2 separate regions of the Homo sapiens genome follow, and region 1 is linked to region 2. The links come from fine-mapping of genetic effects on gene expression. Tissue or cell type: monocytes. Region 2 holds a variant in brackets; the other region holds the start of a gene. All regions are shown on one strand. Distances are from middle to middle.

The links.
Region 1: it holds the start of PPP2R5A, and the variant in region 2 is fine-mapped to the expression of PPP2R5A in monocytes (TOPMed, PIP above 0.99). The same link has a PIP of 0.9 or more in blood mononuclear cells and non-classical monocytes.

Annotation. Positions count from the first base shown.
Region 1 is chr1:212,280,483-212,291,263 of GRCh38, forward strand. PPP2R5A (protein phosphatase 2 regulatory subunit B'alpha) reads left to right here and starts at 4,928. Exons shown (of 13, transcript NM_006243.4): 1 at 4,928-5,809. The coding sequence starts at 5,629. LINC02608 (long intergenic non-protein coding RNA 2608) reads right to left here and starts at 4,539. Exons shown (of 4, transcript NR_125984.1): 1 at 4,497-4,539. RefSeq lists enhancers at 1,005-1,174, 4,441-4,520 and a silencer at 4,691-5,660.
Region 2 is chr1:212,242,453-212,253,233 of GRCh38, forward strand. All of the region lies in intron 1 of LINC02608 (long intergenic non-protein coding RNA 2608), which reads right to left. Among named protein-coding and RNA genes, the nearest start is that of LINC02608, 37 kb to the right of the region's middle. RefSeq lists a silencer at 10,406-10,652. The variant C/A (reference allele first, on the strand shown) is at 6,773.

The DNA of each region.
Region 1 (10,781 bases), 38 kb after region 2:
CTATTCTGTTCCACTGGTTTATGTGTCTGTTTTTATGCCAGAACTATTCTGTTTTGATTACTATAGCTTTGTAATATACTTTTAAATCAGGAAGTATGATACCTCTAACTTTTCGTTTTTCAGTATTGCTTTGGCTATTTGGGAATTTTTGTGGTTGCAAATGAATTTTATTGTTTTTTCTATTTCTGTAAAGAATGCCACTGGAATTTTGATAGGGACTGGGTTAAATCTATATATTGCTTTGGATAAATCTATATATTGCTTTGGATGAACATTTTAACAATATTAATTTCCTTGCTGGAATAGCAGTTAGGATTTGGTGCTCTCTCCTGCAGCTTCTTGAAGTGTGACTTTGCTAAGCCTTAAGCAATTAAACACATTATATCTCTGGAAACATATATAAGAAACTGATAGCAGTGGTTGTCCCCAAAGCGGGGAACCAGATGTTGGGAAGCAGGGGTGGGAGTGAGACGTTTCCTGTTGCCCTTTTACTCCTTCTGAATTTTAAATAATGAGAATGTATTTAAATAAATAGAAATGAGGCACTAAAAATTAGTGTATTTTTATAAGTCAGATACTATCTTGATTTAGATTCTAGTAAAGTGGTAGTAAGATGCAAACATTTTTAAAAGATATGAGATATTTTTTATTTTTATTTTTTGAGATAAAGTGTCACTCTTTCTCCCAGGCTAGAGTGCAGTGGCACCATCAGTGCTCACTGCAGCCTCGACTTCCTGGCATCAGGTGATTCTCCCACCTGAGCCTCCTGAGTCACTGGGACTACAAGTGCACACCCCCACCGCCACCTAATTTTCTGTATTTTTAGTAGAGATGGGGTTTTGCCACATTGCCCAGGCTGGTCTTGAATTCCTGGGCTCAAGTGATCCTCCGGCCTTGGCCTCCCAAAGTGCTGGGATTACAGGCATGAGCCACTGTGCCTGATCATGAGAGAAGTTTTGTGTAAATTTGGAAAATACTACCACTCTTTGATTCTGTAGATCCGGCACCTTGGTCTGGTGTTCTATTGGAGCAGTTTGGGAATCATGACTCTTAAGGAAAGAGAATGTTGACAGTCAAAACTTTGCTTGGATATGCTTTAGAGAATTTCACAGTGATTTGAAAAGAACACTCTCTGTGATGTGCTCTTTAAAACCATTACACAACCATTATTTTGATGTTGTGGATATTACTTTTTCTCGCATCATTTTTCTCAACAAAAGGATAAGGTCAGTAAGTGTATATACGTTTATAAACTAAGGAAGTTAAGTAATGTAAGCACAAACCATCCAAGGAATTTGTTAGTGATGCAATCCTGGCCTCTAAATTGCTCTTGACCAAGGAGCTTCACATATGGGAAGGATCAGAAATTCTATGGCATGGAATCAAAGACACTCTTCCTGCTTCAGGGGCACATATAGATTAGTACTGTCATTGCAGTTTCCTATTAGATGATTCTTAGTGACCAAATCTCTGTCTAGGACCCAGATACCTTATTTACTCAAAATAGTGGACGGAAAATAAACGTTTGATATACATGTATGCATAATATTTTCATCTACATAATTTTTATTTCCCTGAGTGTTTTTTCTTGGGTCATATTTAAAACTCATGCCAGCCCTGTGAAGAAGGTTGTCATTTTTTTTTTCTGATGTACACATGTGGAAAAAGTGACTGGACAGAATCATTCTATTGATAAGTAGCACAGAGTCAGGCATTTTGATTCTTGGGCTTTTGTTCTTCCCCCTGGAAAATGCTTAGTGACTTGATCTGGAATGCCATCCTCTCTTTTCAGGTTTTGACTTGATCTTTAAAATTATGCTCAAAATTCTTCCCCAAGAGGCTGTTTCACCAAAGCCCAGATGGTTTTTGCTGGTTCCAAGACTCCCAAAAACTTGTTTCCAGTATTTTCTATTATATCCAGTATCTATTATTTATCACATTCCAGTATGAACATGGAATATGATTTATTGTATTGACTTACAGAATTTGCTTTATTGTATTTATTTTTTTCTTTTCTTTTTTTTTTTTTCTTTTTTGAAACGGAGTCTCACTCTGTCACCCAGGCTGGAGTGCAGTGGCGCAATCTTGGCTCACTGCAACCTCCGCCTCCCGGGTTCAAGCGATTCTTCTGCCTCAGCCTCCTGAGTAGCTGGGACTACAGGCTCGTACCACCACACCTGGCTAATTTTTTATTTTTAGTAGAGACAGGGTTTCACCATGTTGGCCAGGCTGGTCTCAAACTCCTGACCTCGTGATCACCCACCTCGGCCTCCCAAAGTGCTGGGATTACAGACGTGAGCCACTGCGCCCGGCCTGTACTGATTTTCTTTCTGCTATTTGTCTCCCTTTCTTATTTTATGTAAATTATTATAAATAGTACTACTCCTGACTTACAGACATTTACATTCTGTTTTTAATAACTTCTAGATGACTAGAGAATAGTAGTTCCAAACTTTTGTGTACATAAGAATAACCTAGGGAAGTTATTAAAAATAGACTTCTCAGTGCTCTTCCCATAGGTTCTAGTTCTGTTGGGGGGAGGCGGGGGAGGTCCAGGAATCTGCATTTTCAATAAGCACCCCAGAGGATGCTGATGCAGGTGATCCAGTAACCACGCTTTCAGAAATTCTGCTGTTGAGAACTAAAAATGTGATTGTTATCCTCTGCTCAGTAGGGGAAACAGAGGTGTAAAATAAAATAACTGAGTTCTTGCTCTCTTGGTGTTGACAAACTTTCAGCTGTGAGTGGTGTGGACACTAAATGCAATAGGAATACAAAGAAGGGAGGCATCACTTCTGGCTGGATTGTCAAGCTTCATAAAAGATAGGGGGTTTGAAGAAAAGAAATTTCAAAAAGATGAAAAAAAAATGGGCCGGGCGCGGTGGCTCACGCCTGTAATCCCAGCGCTTTGGGAGGCGGAGGTGGCCGAATCACGAGGTCAGGAGTTCGAGACAAGCCTGGGCAACATGGTGAAACCCCGTCGCTACTAAAAATACAAAAAATTAGCCGGGCGTGGTGGCAGGTGCCTGTAATCCCAGCTACTCGGGAGGCTGAGGCAGGAGAATCGCTTGAACCCGGGAGGCGGAGCATGCAGTGAGCCGAGATTGTGCCACCATTGCACTCCAGCCTGGGTGACAGAGCAAGACTCCGTCTCAAAAAAGAAAAAAAAAAGTGGATTATTTCAAGATGTTGGAACAGCAAAGACTAAGTGTTGAGGATGCATAACTTCTTTTAGGGGATCAGTATGTGGAATGATGTGCCTGAACTAAAAAGAGTTTTTGTGGGCACATGTAGGAATTTACACTTGGAAAGACAGGAGTCAGATCGCAGAGAGTCTTGAATTTGGACTCTATTCTGCAGGTATTGGGTGGTTCCTCAAACACGCAGGTAAGATAAAAGTGATCTTAAAAGATTGATGTGGCAGTGAGTTTGAAAGCCGTGAACTACGTTTGGCGGTCTTTGTACACATTGGGAGAAACGCCAATTGTGAAAGTAGATTTAACATGATCTGGAGCTTGACTATGTGAGAAAGCGAAAAGTGTCAGAAACGCTGCTGAGGTTTGAACCTCCTTGACTGGGAGGATTATGTACAATTTCACCGCCCAGCAAATCTGAAGGAGGAAATGTTTTGAGGATAGTATGTTTGGTTCTAGGTCTAGAATTCAACTTCCTGCCAAATTTGGAATCTTCTGTACATATGCATCAGGTGGCTTCGTTTAAATATACGACAATTACTTTTATTATGTTGAAAGGAAAAGGTCTGGAGCTCGAGGGAGGGGATTACAGATTTGGGTCCATTGGCGCAAAGGGAGGCTGACTGTTCAGATTAATAATTATTAACGGCCACCGTATGGAAAGCACTGCACGAAAAACTAAGATGACCAGTCCTCGTCCTTAAGAAATTCAAAATCTAGACGGAATCTCCAAGAAAGAGATTCCGGTAAGAGTACATGGCAAGCCTCCATATCCACACACCACTGACCAATGAATTTGTACTCTTCTCGTTGGAGTAGTTGAGGGCCTTTGGCTCAAGGAGGGGTGAAAATTAGCAGGATACTAAATTGGGAATGAGAAATCTCTTTTTAGAGGGCGTGGACTTGCAGAACTCTTTGAAGCAGCAGATGCTAGACTGCCCAAACCCCACGCGAGAGTAGCTCTCTGGAGTTGCGGAGTCCGAACCTCCCAAGAGCTACAAATTTATTCCGCAACTACCAATTTTGCGGTTTGGGGCCAGTAAGGCGCCAAGACCCGCCCAGGTGTCCAGACCTCGCAACGATTGGACGAGCTCACCTTCTCGCCTTCCCCGGGCCCCTCGCCCGTCAATCACACTGCTTGCTCGCCACCTGACCTCTGCTGCGCCCCCTTTCAGTGGTGTAACACCTGGCGCTCTTTCGCGCCCCAGCCCTCCGGCGCCCCACCAATCGCTTCAGTTCTTCATTGGCCAGCAGAGAGGTGAGGGAAGGGAAGGGGCGCTCTATTTTGCTCTCTGAACGCACCCTCTCAAGTTTCCCAGTCTTCTCGTAGACGGTCAGGAGAGCAATGACAGCCTGGAGCAGTCGCGCGTGAGCGCAAAAATGCCCGCTGGTGGAGGAGCGCTTCCCCTCCCTCCCAAGCGATTTGCCGCATTTGTTCTGACGCAGGGGCACCCCGCTCGCCGTCTTCACTTACGATTGGCTGTGGCCGAAGCCCGTCACACAGCCCGCCCCACTCCTCTGCCTCAAGAGGCCGCACCTCACGCCGTCGCTGCCGCTTAGCCGTGTGATTGGCTAAGAGGGCTGGCATGCTTTCCCGCCCCCTCCCCCGCCGCCGCACCAAGAGGCGGGCGGGACCCCGCGGAAGTTGTCAGTCAAACTCCTCCTTCCCACCCCTTGCGAGGCCCCTCCCCGGGCCGCGCGCCCTGGCGCGCGCACACGCGCACACACTCCCCAGTCGCCTGTACCAACCACCTTCTCAAGTTGTAGCGGTCGCTCGCCTGGGGTTCTCCGTGGGCGGCCGACGGGCGCGTGGGGGAGGGGGTTCGGGCCGCCCAGCGCGGCAAGGAGCGAGTGTGTGCACGCAGAGGGCCGGGGCTACGGGGCAGCGCCCCGGGCGATGAGGGGCCGGCGTTGACCGGGAAGAGCGGGCACCGCGGCAGTGGCTCCGAGGGGACCCGCGATGGCAGCGCCCTGAGAGGAGGCTCCAGGCAGGGCGGGCTGCGCTGGCAGCGGCCGCTGAGGTGCTGGCCGGCCGGCTGGCTGGCGACGGGGGCAGAAGCGACGAGAGGCGCGCTCGGCACCCGCACCCCCGTGCCCCCGCCTCAGTTGTCTAAACTTCGGGCTCTCTTCCACCCGCTCTGCGCGCCCAGAGTCAACAACTTCTTCACCCCCCTCCGCCCCCGCCCTTCCCTCCGTCAGCCCCGGGAGCTCGCCGCGCGCCGGGGACCAGGAACCTCCAGCGCTGAGATGTGGCCGTGAGGCGTTGGCGGGCGGCGAGGAGAAGCTCGGCGGCGTCCCGGGGCCGGAGGGCCGTGGGGCCGGGGCGCAGGGGCGCGAGCACCCCGCGCCTCTCCCCCGCCTCCTCCTGCCGTCTCCGCCGCTGCCCGTGCCTTGCAAGCAGCAGCCGGAGCTGCCAAGCGTCAGGGCCGCGGAGATGTCGTCGTCGTCGCCGCCGGCGGGGGCTGCCAGCGCCGCCATCTCGGCCTCGGAGAAAGTGGACGGCTTCACCCGGAAATCGGTCCGCAAGGCGCAGAGGCAGAAGCGCTCCCAGGGCTCGTCGCAGTTTCGCAGCCAGGGCAGCCAGGCAGAGCTGCACCCGCTGCCCCAGCTCAAAGGTAACCTCCGAGGGCGCAGCCCCAGCAGCGAGCGCAGGGGCTGGCAACGCTTGCCTCTGCGCCAGCAGAGCCATTTCCTGCTGGGTTTCTCCTGCTCAGTTGGGACTGGTAGTGTGTGAGCCGAGTTCCCCACAATGCCTTGGCGTCACCTCACGCCCTCCTCCTTATTCAAACAGGTTTTCTGTGAAGTCTTGGCTGTTTCCTTCTAATTCCCACCTGAACTCTTTCCATCCTAGGGGAGGCCAACACCCTTCCCCACCTGCGCGCTTGCTTAACCTGCACTTCCTATCTTGCGTCCCGTGAAGTAGAGTCCTTCACTCCTCTTCCAGGTTTGCCCTTTCCCGGTCTTGCTTTAACAACCGCACGAACCTTCCCCGACCTTCACTTTCCCGAGTGTCAGCTCCTCTGTTCGGCCACTTTTAGCTAGTCCTTTACTTTTACAGTTATAAAGCCGTCTGCACCCACCTTCTTCTCAACTTCACTTCCCATTGATTGCCCCTAAGAGTCATCAGACCAGGAATCCGAATGCAAACAACGGTTAAGAGTTAGCTGGCCTTTGGATGTATTTATAAAGAAAAAGCCTAAAATTTGACCAGTGTAGTATCTTATTCACAGGATCGTTAGCTTTAAATGGTATCCTTTAGCTCAAGGAATAGATTTAAAATATTCTGTTGTCTGAGCCGATACACATGGTCTATTTGGAAATACGAAGGAGTAGGTAGTGTTGCTTTGCAGTCGAATGGGAACTTAGTTTGCCAGGCAGTGATTCCAGGGACTTTGTAGGTTTGTACAGGAATTCAAATTGGTATCCGTGCCTAATGCCTTGCAGGAGAACTTGGCACTCTTTTTGGCTCACTTTTCCCACTAGGTTTAGAGGATTTTCGATGTTATTTCCTGGTGTTCTAGTTTATTCTTTGTGTATTACTCATGCTTAATTTTATAATTTTAATGTCCTTGCTTTTTATGAGATAGAAATGTTGGAACAAGATGATAATGCTCCTACATATTTAGATAAAATTTGCAACCTGACGGAAATCCCTATCATCTGATGTTCAGATTTTTCAATTCATTTGAAAAAGCTGCAGCATCCCCTTCAAGGCCAGTCTGGTTCTCATTTGTCTTTGGGCCTGTGAATCCAGCCTTAGTTTGGCAAGGAGTCTAAAGAAAACCCCAGATCAAATCACAGTTGACCTACAACAGCTCCAGAACCCTATTGAGACCCTACCTTGCCCTGACTCTTGGAGTGCTTCTAAATCATGACATCTCACAGTTAGAATCAAACTGGCTTTTGAACAGAGATTTTGAGATATTAGTCTGTGCTATCGAATTTATCATTTGATTGCTCTTTAGCATATAAAAATTGTTAAAATTTACATAGCAAAATGGTAGACTATAATGATAGGCATTGCCAAGACTTTAATTCTTGAATGATGTCATAGCTATAAAAGAATATCGTCTTTGCTATTCATAGATTTTAAAATTTACACTTATTTAAAATATCATAGTTTTTTTATACTACTGATTTTTTTTCTCCCATTAAATTGTCAAACTGTAGTTTGAAGGTTTGGTGCTAGGGTTATTTCATAGTTATTTAATTTGCTTTTTAGTAAGATATTCTAGTTTCTTAGTATTGTACTTCTTAATAGTATACTTTAATAAAAGTAATTGAATATTAAACATTTGGTTGGTTTCAAGCCAGGAGATGCAGCTTTGATAGGTTTTGCTTTTATTTTATTTATTTTATTTTATTTTTTCACTTTCGTTGCTCAGGCTGGAGTGCAATGGCGCGATCTCAGCTCACTGCAACCTCCGCCTCCCGGGTTCAAACAATTCTTCTGCCTCAGCCTCCCAACTAGCTGGGATTACAGGCATGTGTCACCATGGCCGGCTAATTTCGTATTCTTAGTAGAGATGGGGTTTCACCATGTTGGTGAGGCTGGTCTCCAACTCCTGACCTCAGGTGATCAGGCCACCTCAGCCTCCCAAAGTGGTGGGATTACAGGCGTGAGCCACCGCACCTGGCCACATTTTGCTTTTAAAAGCTTGGAAAAATATGCATAGAGTCAGTAATCATCTAAGTTATATGATGTAGGGTTCAACAAGTTGAAGGTGCCATATAGTATTTGGTCACTAGTAAAGAAGAAAGTAAATTGGAACTTTACATTAATTGTAGATATTTGCATGAAAATACAGTATTCATCATAAGGAAAATTATGTATTCAGGATAAATTTATGCAAATTTAATTGAGGAAATAAGACCCTTACTTGGATTACAAACTAATAGGAACAACTTCTTTTACTCCAGATGCCAAAATGCTTGCAAGTGATTTAAAAAAAAAACACCAACATTCAATTGCTTCAATTGGAACTTTGGCAGTGTACTTGATACCACAGTGTTGTGTTTTTTCTGCCAGTGGTAGTTTTTTCCATTTGTGGCCTTCACAAAAACATGGAAAGCCCTTTAGTATGTGTATGAAAGAAAGAATTTTCTTCCTCCTCTGAAATACCATCTTACTGTGGAGTGATTCAGATATCCATGGACTCCAAGATCTTTTAAGTTTCATACCAGCCTGCTTATGTTACTTTGACCACATGCATCTGAACTGGAAAGGTGCCAACTAGTTTTCCTCAAACCATAGTAAGGATTAACAAAATAATCCAGCCTTTTCACCTGTAAGAAGTATTTGTGCAAAATAATTTAGTAAGTGGGTTGTGGGATTTTAATGGCAAAAATGTTCAGAATAAATTGTTTTATAATTGAAAGTATTTAATAAACAACAAGCCTTGTTAAAAGGCTTTTCAGTCTAACCTATTTTGTTTAAGATTCTGGAAGGCTTGGTTTGGTAAAGTAGTTGATGCCTTACATTTATATAACATTTTAGCATTTTAAAATTATTTTACCTTAAAAATTTTCTTAAATTATAAAACAGTATTGTTCATACCAAGTGAAACAATCCAAAGATATGTAACCCTTAATCCCTGTGTATCTCCTGCTTTTTCACACCTAGTAAGTAAGGGTAATACTGTTGTTTGATAATCCATGGCTCATTGTATTTTTACAAACATCCTATTCATTGGGTCATCCCTGAACTTTTTGCAAGGTCAGTATTCCCATTTTATTGATGAGAAAGTTGAGGCCTAAAAAGAATAGTTTCTGGCCTGTGATTACTTATCTGGATGATGTTGCAGCTGACACTGGGACCTAGGTCAAATGATTTCAGTATTTGTGCTGTTAACTGTTTTATGTAAATTTGAAGCAGTGTGATAGAGTTGGGTCTCTGGGGTTAGTCCTGGGTCAAAGGTAAATTTTTAATCTTTCTAAGTCGTTTTCCTTATCTGTAAAATGGGGATAATACAAATCTCCCCAGGCCTGTGGGGATTAAGGGGAATAATTTAAGTGCCTAAAAATAGGCAAAGAATGTTAGTTCCCATTCTCTTAAATATTTGAAAATCCAGATTAAAAATATTTTTAAATGAAGGATTATTAATAGGATTACTTACTTAAATGGTAAACTTTCCTAGTGTATTTAAAGTGATTTTATTTATAATCAGTTTTCAGATATGATTTATGTGATCTGAAGTGCAGCTGCAACATCTTTCAGCACGAGTGTAGAAATGGAAATAGGATTAAGTCAGACTCTTTAAAACATTAAAAGCTGTGATAAGATTTTTTTACCAAGCGAAGAAATCAACCTAACCAGTAGAATTATATAGATGTGCAGTCATCTTAGGAGACAGCCGGGAAATAAATAGCAAGATAGGCTGAAACTGGCTTTGAGATTGAAGTCCCCTTCAGAAGAGGTAAAACTTTCCCAAGTAGCACTCAAGATTCTTTGTTGGTCCATTCTTAGCAACTGTGTCCCACTAGAGGTATTGAGGCCAGTAATAGTGGTGTTGATTGCAGTGCTTCCTTACCTTTAGGGGGAAAAATGTGTGTGTTTTCTAAAGTAGGTGATCTAAGGTAATTGTGGAACAAGAACACTGACATTATCTTAAGTTCTATAGCTAAACCTTTTTGTGGAGAGAAAACCGTACTACTCACTCAACTTTTAAGGTTTATAGATCTTCTCAAAGTTACTATCATTCCATCTAAACACAGTTGGGATGGCACTAGAGGAGAGTTCAAATTCATCTGAAGATGTTAAGAAAATTGTTTACAAAAGGAAATAACATTTTAGTCATTTTAGGACTATTTTCTGAGATATCTCTTCTGGAAGATTTATTTTTAAAAAATTTAAAACATTTTTAGGATATTCTTAAGAGAAATTGCTAAATAAAGTGTTCACTGCTAGTCCTCACATAAAGGAAAAACTTTTCTATTTAAACCCATTTTAACATCTTTAGAATTCCTGTTTAGGATCATCTCTTCCTCCTCTCCATTTTATTACCTTATCTGATTGTTAATTGTGGATTATTTTATGAAGTGTCTAACTGAATAAAGTGCTAATCCAATAAAATGTATTTGGTAAAATAATGCAACCATTGTAGTATGTTACTGTCATGTAAACAGTAGATTTAAATTGTCTTCCTGCATCAGTGATGACTCATTCCTTTCAACTTCAGTTTAGCCATTTTCACCTGCAAGAATAACATTTTTCTCTTGATAAAATAACAAAGATGAATTAGTCTTTAAGGAGTTATTGCTGCCTTGGATTTCAAAGACAGGTTTACTAACAGAAATAACACATTTAGATTTTTGTGTTTCATTTTTAAAAGTTAGATTTTTGTAAAAAGCTGGGGATAAAGACTAGTTTGTTTTTATGTGTTTAGCACTGTGGTTCCCAATCCTGGCTATACTTGGAGAGGTCATTTATTTTATTTTATTTTATTTTTTTTCAGACTGAGTCTCGCTGTGTCCCCAGGCTAGAGTGCAGTGGCACGATCTCTCGGCTCACTGCCACCTCTGCCTCCCAGGTTCAAGCGATTCTCTTGCATGCACCACCATGCCAAGCTAATTTTTGTATTTTTAGGA
Region 2 (10,781 bases):
CTCTTTATCTTCATATCTTTGCTGTCTTGTTTTCCAGTCCAGCATATCATGAGACAAAAAGGGAAAGTTACAACCAAAAGCCAGTGAGTTAAAACTGCACGATACTTGGGCAAGCCTGCCTCTTGGAGATAATTCAAATGGAAAAGAAAAGACAAAAAACCCCACAACATTTCAGGTCATTGGCCTTTTTAAACAGACCGCCGGCAATATTTACTCCTCCTGAAATAGCACAGTCACATGAAATAAAACCGTGTTCGGTAAAGCCTGCAAAACAAAAGGACAACTTACAGGCTGGCATGCTCACTGAGGGCCTTCTGTTTACCGGCCAGATCAGGGCTCTGCTTCCGGGCTCTCTAGCCACCTTCTGCCCAAACCTGCTGGAGAGCTGTGGGGGTCAAGGTCAGATTTTCTTGGAGACCCTCCCCACTCTTTTCCCCTTAAATGATTTGGAAAGGCAGGTTGAGAGTTGGGAACAGGGCTGTGAAGAGTATGTGGCTGATGTGGCCTCTACTGTAGAAGCCCAGGTTGTGAATGTCGCAGGAGGAGCTTCTAATGGTGTCTGCCCTTGTCCAGCATGGTCACCTCTGTTTCCTCTCTGTTCTTTACTCCTTACTTCTTAATGCATTTACCTCCCCCACACCTCCCCCAGACCCCTGCCTTCTCTCTCTCTCATCTGTTTCCCCCCCTCAGCCTATCTTGTATTCCCCTTTTGCCTTCTCTCCTGACCTTAGTTCTGCCAAGGACCCTTCATGGACCTTTAGTGATTAGTCCAACTGTTGCCTGGAAGGTCTAAAGTAGCTGCTAATGGTGAGGTTAATGAATGTACAGTCACAGGCCAGATCTGGGGTCATGGTGAATTCCCACTGAGACTGAGACTTCACTGAGGACTCAGGGGAACCTTCTCAGTCTCATTCTTTAAGCTTTTCCTCTCCATTACTGATATTTCTTTGTAAAAATCCAAAAACCATTTAAAATAATACATTATACCTTGTTTCTCAAAGTCTTTTTATATCCGTTGATTTCATCTTTACATCAACCTTGAGAGGGAGGCAAAACAGTTGAGGAAAGAGAAAAACAAAGAAGCTCAACAACATTCCCAAGTTAGTTACAGAGCTATGTTCTCTGCTCCCTGGGTTCTCCTGAAGCAGGAGAATCTCTTGAACCCAGGAGGTGGAGGTTGCAGTGAACTGAGATCGTGCCACTGCACTCCAGCCTGGGTGACAGAGAGAGACTCCATCTAAAAAAAAAAAAAAAAAGAAGAAAGAAAATAAGATTCATTCCATACACCAGAGAGGGATCCTCCAACACCCAGGGTGAGAAGTACATTATCAGGCATCCCTGGCTTATCAAACACTGGACACTTTGTTGACAATCAACTTTGTCACCTGGAACTTCATGAAACAGATTTCCCTGAGTGTCTGTGTTTCCTTCCTTTCTTTCTTTTTTTTTTTGAAACGAAGTTTTGCTCTTGTCGCCCAGGCTGGAGTGCAATGGTGCAATCTCAGCTCACTGCAACCTCCACCTCCCAGGTTCAAGTGATTCTCCTGCCTCAGCCTCCCAAATAGCTAGGATTACAGGCGTGTGCCACCACACCTGGCTAATTTTTGTATTTTTAGTAGAGACGGGGTTTCACCATGTTGGCCAGGCTGGTCTTGAGCTCCTGACCTCAGGTGATCTGCCCGCCTTGGCCTCCCAAAGTGCAGGCCTGAGCCACCACGCCCGGCCTGTGTTTCCTTTCTTTACATCAACCATCTAGCAGCTACTGGTTTCATTTTCTTTTGCACATGCCAAAGTATGTACAGTAAGTGGAAGAGTTAGCCAGAGATGTATATAATGTACTCTTATTTTTTCAAATGATTCAAAAGAAAATTATGACTGTAAAAATTTACTTTTAGGCCTCTAGTGGAGCCTCGCTCTCTCTTTCCTTCTCTCTCTTTCTCTCTGTCCATCTATCTATTACAGATACTAAGTGCTCAGCACTGTGATGTAGGAGGTTCTGATATATTTGTTGGAAAAAGAATCCTCGAGAAACAGTGTAGCAGAAATGTGTGCTTTCACTTCTAACAGCCAGCACTTGCATCTCTATGTCAAAGGGCTGCTCTCAGGCTGCCAGGACCCCCTTTGCATGAAGGCACAGAGAGCTGAAGGGTCTGGACTTTACACACCCGGAAAGCAGCCCTTACCCAGTGACTGGCAGGTGCAGTGAGTAAACACTCCACTCTGAGGTCTCACTTACACTGTCACTGCCCTGTGGGACTGAGCTCAAGTTACCCTCTGTGGGATTTCACTTGATTCCATATCCTTTTCTGGATTCCACATCTTTTTCTGGATTCCACATATTCCTCATTCCACCTTCTCACACCCCTACTGTTTTTTCCTGGGAACACATCCTAAAAAAAATCACGTCCACACCAATTCTTGTCTTAAGATGTGCTTCTGAGGGAACCTAGCTGAAGACAGAGAGTTTGTTTTGTCTTGGGCTCCCTCCCAACCCAAGTCTCTAGGATCAGAGTGAGTGAGAGAGATGGGGGAGTGGAAGAGCAGGCCTGTCTTCAGACACCAGAAGGAGACGTAATTAAAAGCTGAAGATGGTGCCTTCCTAAGGACCGGTGATACAGTTTGCATGTCCCTTCCAAATCTTATGTTGAGATGTAATTCCCAGTGTTGGAGGTGCGGCCTGGTGGGAGGTCTTTGGGTCATCGGGGAGAATCCCTCATGGCTTGGTGTTGTCCTAGTAATAGAGAGTTCTCATGAGATTTGGTTGTTCAAAAGTGTGTGGAACCTCCCCTGGCTCGCTCTCTTGCTCCTGCTCTTGCCATGTGAGGCACCTGCACCCCCTCCACCTTCGACCATGATTGTAAACCTCCTGCGACCCTCACCAGAAGCAGATGCCAGCACCACGCTCCTTGTACTGTCTGCAGAAGTGTGAGCCAATCAAACTTCTTTTCTTTATAAATTACCCAGCCCCAGGTTTTTTTTTTAATAGTAATGCAAATGGGCAGCACTCAAGCAGGGAGAGACAGTGTTCCCAGGTCTGCACAGAATGTATCTCTAGTGCAGAGGGGAGAGGACTGATGGTAACTGAATATCACTTGACACCTCAGGGTTCCCAGTTTGAAAAATACCAGGAGATGGAACCCATGTGGGAAAATGACATCCTTAAAGTAGGCAGAGGGAGCAGCTTCGAGGCCTTTCTTCCAGGTGGTTTCTTGGGGGCAGATGTGCATGAGCAGACTTAGGCCTGAGTGCATGAGAACCATCATCTGGGATGCCCAGAAATAACTGGGAGAATGAATGAAGCACTGATACATACAACCACATAGATGCACCTTGACAACATGCTAAGGCAAGAAGCCAGTCATAAAAGGCCATATACTGTTTGGTTCCATTTATATGAAATGTCCAGAACAGGCAAAGCCATGGAGACAGAAAGCAAATTAATGGTTGCCAGGGGCTGGGAGGAGATGGGAATTAATGGGAAGTGACTGTTTTGTGGGTAGGGGGTTATCTTTTTCAGTGATGAAAATATTCTGGAACTAGATAGTGGTGATGGTTGTACAGAGTTGTGAAATACTAAAAGCCGCTGAGTTGTACACCTTAAAATGGCACATTTTATGATATGTAATTACATACGTAAACCTCAATTTTAGAAAAGAAAGAACTAGGAAATTTGAGGTGGCAGAAGAAAAGCTGAGGTCCTGATTCACAAGAGGAAGTTGCAAGTTAGTAAAATATTTGTTGTTAATGCTACTTTCTCTTCATTTATTGCCTGAATTGTTTCTCATTTGCCTGGTGATGATTGGGATCATCTGTGTTACATGAGACAGTATAGAATTCAGTGCTAAGTTGTGCAGCACACATTCTAAGTGTGGAAGGTGGGTTGTATAGATCACATACTGTACAACCTCCGTGTCTGTACATGGTAGCCCTGGTCAGTTACATATTTCTGCAAACTTCAACACAGGATCTCCACATACAAAGATAGAATGCTAGATTCTTTCTTCTAATTGTTTCAATGGAGTGCAGTGGCGAGATCTCGGCTCACTGCAACCTCCGCTCCCGAGTTCAAGCAAATCTCCTGTCTCAGCCTCTCAAGTAGTTGGGACAACAGGCACACGCCTGACTAATTTTTTTGTATTTTTAGTAGAGACAGGGTTTCACCATATTGGCCAGGCTGGTCTCGAACTCCTGGCCTCAAGTGATTCACCCGATTCAGCCTCCAAAGTGCTGGGATTATAGGCATGAGCCACCACACAGAACCTGAGACCATGTCTTTTTAAGCAAAGGGATTCCCCCCTTTCTTTGCTGCCTTGAGTCGGGGAGCTATAGGTTCTTCCTGATGCTGTGATTTCCCTACCTGACTCCAAACTGGGTATACACCAGGGGCCTGGCACTGGTGCCCACCCTATGAGAGTCTTCAACCCTGGATAGGGTTCTGTTCTGTTTGCTACGGATCTTCCCAGATTCTTCTCCAAATGTCAGGGTTGGTACCTGGGTCCAAAGATTTGCCTCATTTCTGAGGCAACAGAAAAGCAGATTTGATTTCTGGAAGTCATTATGGCATCTGATTTTTCTTGGTCACAATACACTCTAACATGGAGTAGGCTAATTATGATAATACATTTGATATAAAACTATAGTGAAATTGTAGTCTAAGCACTAAGGCCAGTTCAAAAGTCATTACAAGTTTTCTTTTTCAGTGAAAGAAAAAGGAAGTTCCAATTAAAATGTAGGATTTAGCTCCAACCATCCAGTTCTAGCATTTCCTAAGCTTTTGGGACTAAAAATAAATCATTTTCTGACAGTAGTTAGACAGTTCCTTTTCCTCTGAACAGCACGGTCTGAGAGATAGTTAACTTCCCAGCATTCTTCTGTGTATTGTGCGGCGGGTCCAGCCCTCCGCTCCTCACCTCCACACTTCCACCCCGCGAGAGAAATCAGCATAGATGGGTCTCTCCTCCACGGCCTGCATTTCATAAGGGGGTCTGTCTCCAGACACCCAGGTTGGGTGTTTACTTGAAGGCTTGGATGGATAGGAATGCCACTTTCTTATTCCAGAGCTGGTGGAGTGCCTGCTCCCCGCTACTGGCTGTGAGCCAGAGATGGCCTAAAGTCTAAACATTCCCACTATGTAGGCATGTTTTCAATGTCCCTGAGCTTGAGTCACATCTGAACTCAGAGTTTCTGCCTCCTGAGGGAGTTTATGTGGTTGTGTCTGTGTGCTGGTGGGGTTTGTATATGCATATTATGGATTGGAGTGTTTGTGTGTATGTATGGGTGTATTCTGGGAGTTAAAGTGGCTAAGTGTACATATAAAAATTGATATTTATTGTGAAACAGTCAAACAGTAAAGAAAAATGTAAGTTAAAAAACCATAAAATATCACTTTAGTGGACACTTTCCCATGTATTTCTACACACACACACACACACACACACACACACACACACGTAATTTTCTATAAGTGTTATCAATATATTGGAAGGCTGTTTTCTAAGCTAATAATAATAAGAATGGAGAGTGAGTGCTTGCTGTGTGCTAAGTACTGTGCTGGTCCCTTGTCCCTTGATATAGATTAACCTCACTTAATTCTCATGGCCACTTTATGAGGTAGGTACTATCATTATCCCCGTTTTACAGATGAGAAGACTAAGCCAGAGAGAGGGTAGATAAGGTTAGTCTCAAGTGGGTGGCCACACAGCTAGTAAGGGAATGGAACTGGGATTTGGACTCATCTGACTCTGGGGACTCTGTTCTTGACCACTGCTTGATAAAACCAGGTGACAGTAGGCAGCACAGCTGGGCAAGGGTTATTCTTTCATCATTTACTGAGTACCTGACATGGACTAGGCCATAAAAATCCATACAAGACACAGATCTTCTTGAGGCTCAAAGTCTTTTGAAGGAGACAAATGTGTAAGTAAATGATGGCAATTCAGAGTAATTAGGCAAATTACAAAGAGAACAAAAGGGAATCCATTAATACTACCTGAGGAAATTGTAGAGATAACATTGTAACTGTGTCTCAAAGGAAAAGGAGGAGCTGTTTGTTGGGAGTTAAGGTTGGGTAGGATGGGAAGGAAGGGGAAAAGGCCACTTTAGGCTGAGCAAATAACATGTGCAAGGGTATTGGAAATCTTAAGTGTGTGGTGTAGCTGCAGGTAAAGAGTAAGGGAAGGTCTTTGGCTCATGCCTGTAATTCCAGCACTTTGGGAGGCCGAGGTGGGTGGATCACCTGAGGTCAGGAGTTTGAGACCAGCCTGGCCAACATGGTGAAACCCCGTCTCTACTAAAAATACAAAAAATTAGCCAGGCGTGGTGGTGGGCACCTGTAAGCCCAGCTACTTGGGAGGCTGAGGCAGGAGAATCGCTTGAACTCGGGAGGTGGAGGTTGCAGTGAGCCAAGATTGCACCATTGCACTCCAGCCTGGGCAACAGTTAGACTCTGTCTCAAGAAAAAAAAAAAAAAAGGCCGGGCGCAGTGGCTCATGCCTGTAATCCCAGCACTTTGGGAGGCCGAGACGGGTGGATCACAGGGTCAGGAGATTGAGACCATCCTGACTAACACGGTGAAACCCTGACTCTACTAAAAATACCAAAAATTAGCCGGGCGTGGTGGTGGGCGCCTGTAATCCCAGCTACTCGGGAGGCTGAGGCAGGAGAATGGCGTGAACCCGGGAGGCGGAGGTTGCAGTGAGCTGAAATTGCGCCACTGCACTCCAGCCTGGGCGACAGAGCGAGACTCCGTCTCAAAAACACACACACACACACA[C/A]AAAAAACAGTACCGGAAGGGTGGCTCACAGATGGGCATGCAAACTGAGAAGAGTCCGGCTGCTCCACTGAGGATGTTGGCCCCTATTGTATAGGCAGAGGGGAACCACTGCAGCTGCATGAGCAGGACAGTTGCATCATCACAGTGGTGCTTTAAAAGAACAATTAGACAGCAGTCTGGAGGAAGATTCAGAGTGGAGTGGGATTGGAGTAGAGAAAGCGGTTATGCATACAAACAGTAATGCAAGGGTTCTCAGTATTGACTGCCTATGACAATCACCTAAAGAAGTTTTAAAAAAATACTCAGGTGCAGGCCAAACCCTCAGAGATTTTGATTCAGTTAGTCTGGGTTGAGGCTGGGAAAATGGTAGTCTTTAAAAGCTCCCCAGGTGATTCTAGAGTGCCACCAACGTTGGGACCACATCACTACATGGCAGTGTTTAAGAACACAGGCTCTTGTCTCCACAACTTACCAGAAAGCAGGAGATCTTGGGCAAGCTTAGTTGTTGTTGTCATTGTTGTTTTCAGACAAAGTCTTGCTCTTGTCCAGGCTGGAGTGCAATAGCGTGATCTCGGCTCACTGCAACCTCCGCATCCCGGGTTCAAGCGATTCTCCTGCCTCGGCCTCCTGAGTAGCTGGGATTACAGGTGTGCACCACCACGCCCAGCTAATTTTTATATTTTTTAAGTAGAGATGGGGTTTCATCATGTTGGCCAGGCTGGTCTCGAACTCCTGACCTCAGGTGATCCACCCACCTTGGCCTCCCAAAGGGCTGGGATTACAGGCACGAGCTACTGCGCCCAGCCAGTTACTTAGTATTTTTAAGCCTTTGGTTTTCTCACCTATAAAATGGGGATGATAATAGTTACCCCATTGATTAGTAATTATGATATAATATTTATTATAAAACAGTCAAACAAAAAGGAAAAATATAAGGTATATGTATGGTTTGAATAACCCCTTGAAAACAAATTTGATTGCTGTTGGCAAAAATATCTGTTTAATTGCAATTAAACAGTTTAAGAGGTAAAACCTTTATTTTTTATTTATTTGAGATGGGGGACTCACTCCGTTGACCAGGCTGGAGTGCAATGGTGTAGTCATGGCTCATTGCAGCCTTGACCTCCCAGGTTCAAGCAATCCTCCCATCTCAGCCTCCCAACTGAGACTGGGACCACAGATGCACATCACCATACCTGGCTAATTTTCACATTTCTTTTTTGCAGAGACAGGGTCTTGCTACGTTGCTCAGGATGGTCTCATAGAGATAGGTGATTAAGAGGTGATTAAAAGGTGATTAAGTTATGGCTCCACCTTCATAAATAGATTAATGCTGTTACCATGGGAGTGGTCTATTTGTCACAGGAATAGGCTCCTGATAAAAGGATAAATTCAGGCCCCATCTTTCTCTTTGTCTCACAGACTCTCTTGCCCTTCTGCCGTGGGATAATGCAACACAAGGCCCTCGCTGGATGCTGGTGCCATGCTCTTGCTCTTCCCAGCCTCCAGAACCATGAACCAAATAAATTTCTTTTCTTTATTAACTACCCAGCCTGTGGTATCCTTTTATAGCAGCAGAAAACAGATGTAGTTAGTATAGTATATAAGGATTTGAGCACTGTTTCTGACACAGAGTAAGCATTCAATACATAGCAGCTATCATTAATACACTGCAGTGACTCAGGAAAGAGATGATAAGGATTGGAACTAAGTCAGAGGCAGGGGAGATTGCAAGAAGATTATGCATTATCCAGATATTTCAAGAGAGTAGGTGAGGAAAAGAGAATAATTGAAGAGAACTCCATGATTTCAAGCTTGAACAACTCGAGAGATGTTGATGCCATCACTGAGTTTGGAGAAACAGGGATAGGATATAAAGCAAGGGGATAAGAAGTAAGTATTGGGATGGAGAAAATAAGTTGGATTAGATGTACTGAGTTGGAGGTACCTGTGGGTCATCGGGTGGAGACATCCAGCAGGAAGTTGGCATGATGGTCTGAGCTCAAGAAAGAGGTCTGGGCTGGAGGTATTTTTTTGGGGAGCCATGAACATATGAGTGGAAAGTTGAAGCTATAAAAGTAGATAATGGGCTGGGCGTAGTGGCTCATGCCTGTAATCCCAGCACTTTGGGAGGCTGAGGGGATCACCTGAGGTTGGGAGTTCAAGACCAGCCTGACCAACATGGAGAAACCCCGTCTCCACTAAAAATACAAAATTAGCTGAGCATGGTGGTGCATGCCTGTAATCCAAGCTACTCGGGAGGCTGAGGCAGAAGAATCGCTTGAACCTGGGAGGCAGAGGTTGTGGTGAGCCAAGATTGTACCATTGCGCTCCAGCCTGGGCAACAGAAGTGAAACTCTGTCTCAAAAGAAACCAAAAAAGTAGATGTTTATCAAAGAGAGTCTATTAGTGAGAATAGATGAAGGTTGAGTTTAGAACATGGGAAATGTCCAAATATATGGGGTGGATGGAAGGAAAAGGAATCTGCCCCCAGGAATAAGGTAGGGGATAGAAAGAATAGCAGGAATTATAAGGAAAACTAAGAAACAACTATTATCCACAGGAAAGGAAATAAGCCTGGGATAGAAAAAAAGTCTAGTTGGGAGCATTGAGCAAAATAACAAAATTTTTTTACTTAGTCACTTTGATTCAATTTAATAGGATGCTCTTAAAAGACTTTAAAGTTTTTTTCATTTTGCCCACTGCTTCCAAAGGCCATCTTTTCATTCCATATCTAGATGGCAGATACTGGAGCAGAAGCAGTGGCAAAAAGCCTCAGTCACATCTTGCCCTGCGGTAGTCCTGTGCAGGGATGGCATGAATAACTGTAGGAGGCAAAGGAGCAAGCATACCCTTTATACCCTGAGACCCTTGCTCAAAGCTGTCAGTATCTAGCCTGGGAAAGGCTTTTGCTGCCCATCATGCCTCTCAGGCTTTTTGGTACTCAAAGAACCTAGATGACCCTTTTCATCTGTATCAGGAAGCCACTTTTGGACCCTACTGTCAGCACCATCATCTTACTCCTCTCCACCAGGAGGACATATCTTCAAAGTAGCTCCTTCCTACCAGAAAGTTTGGACAATCAGGCCACTCACTGAGTTCAGAGAGACTTCAGAAGTGGCAGCCTAGGGAATCAGTACTCTGTAAGTGGCCTGGGCACCAGAGGCTGTGGGAGACTTTTTGAAGCTCATGTCTGATAGTAATGGTTCTCAAAGATTGACCCCTGGGCCAGCAGCAGCATCTGGGAAACTTATTAGAAATGCAGATTCTCAGGACTCATCCCAGGCCTACTGAATCAGGAGCTCTGGGGGTAGGACCCAGCAGTCTGTGTTTTTAATAAGCCTTCTCAAGTTTGAGAACCACTGTCCTGTATAAACAGGACTAGAAACACCAAGGTTAGGAATCTGTCTCCTTTTTTCTCTGTATCTCTCCCTAGTACACAATTCTTCAGGTAGTAGACTTAATAAATGTTGTTCAGCAGGTGTTTATTGAGGATGTAGTATGTGGAAAACTGTAACGTTGAAGCCAAACACACACACACACACACACACGCACACACACACATTCATTTGCACATACTCACACACGAGACTTTTTCTTTGGGACTCTATAATTACATATACAAGAGTTAGATCAAAGATAGATCAAGGCTGGGCACAGTATCTCATGCCTGTAATCTCAACACTTTGGGAGGCTGAGGTGGGAGGATTACCTGAGGTCAGGAGTTCAAGACCAGCCTGGCCAACGTGGTGAAACCCTGCCTCTACTAAAAATACAAAAATTAGCCAAGCGTGGTGGCACACACCTGTAATCCTAGCTACTCAGGAGGCTGAGGCAGGAACCTGGGAGGTGGAGGTTGCAGTGAGCTGAGATCCCACCACTGTACTCCAGCCTCAGTAACAGAATCAGACTCTGTCTCAAAAAAAAAAAAAAAAAAAAGATCAAGACAAGGTATTAGGATTGTAATGAGTAGGCTATAAATGATACCACAGGGCAGATCCAGAATGTA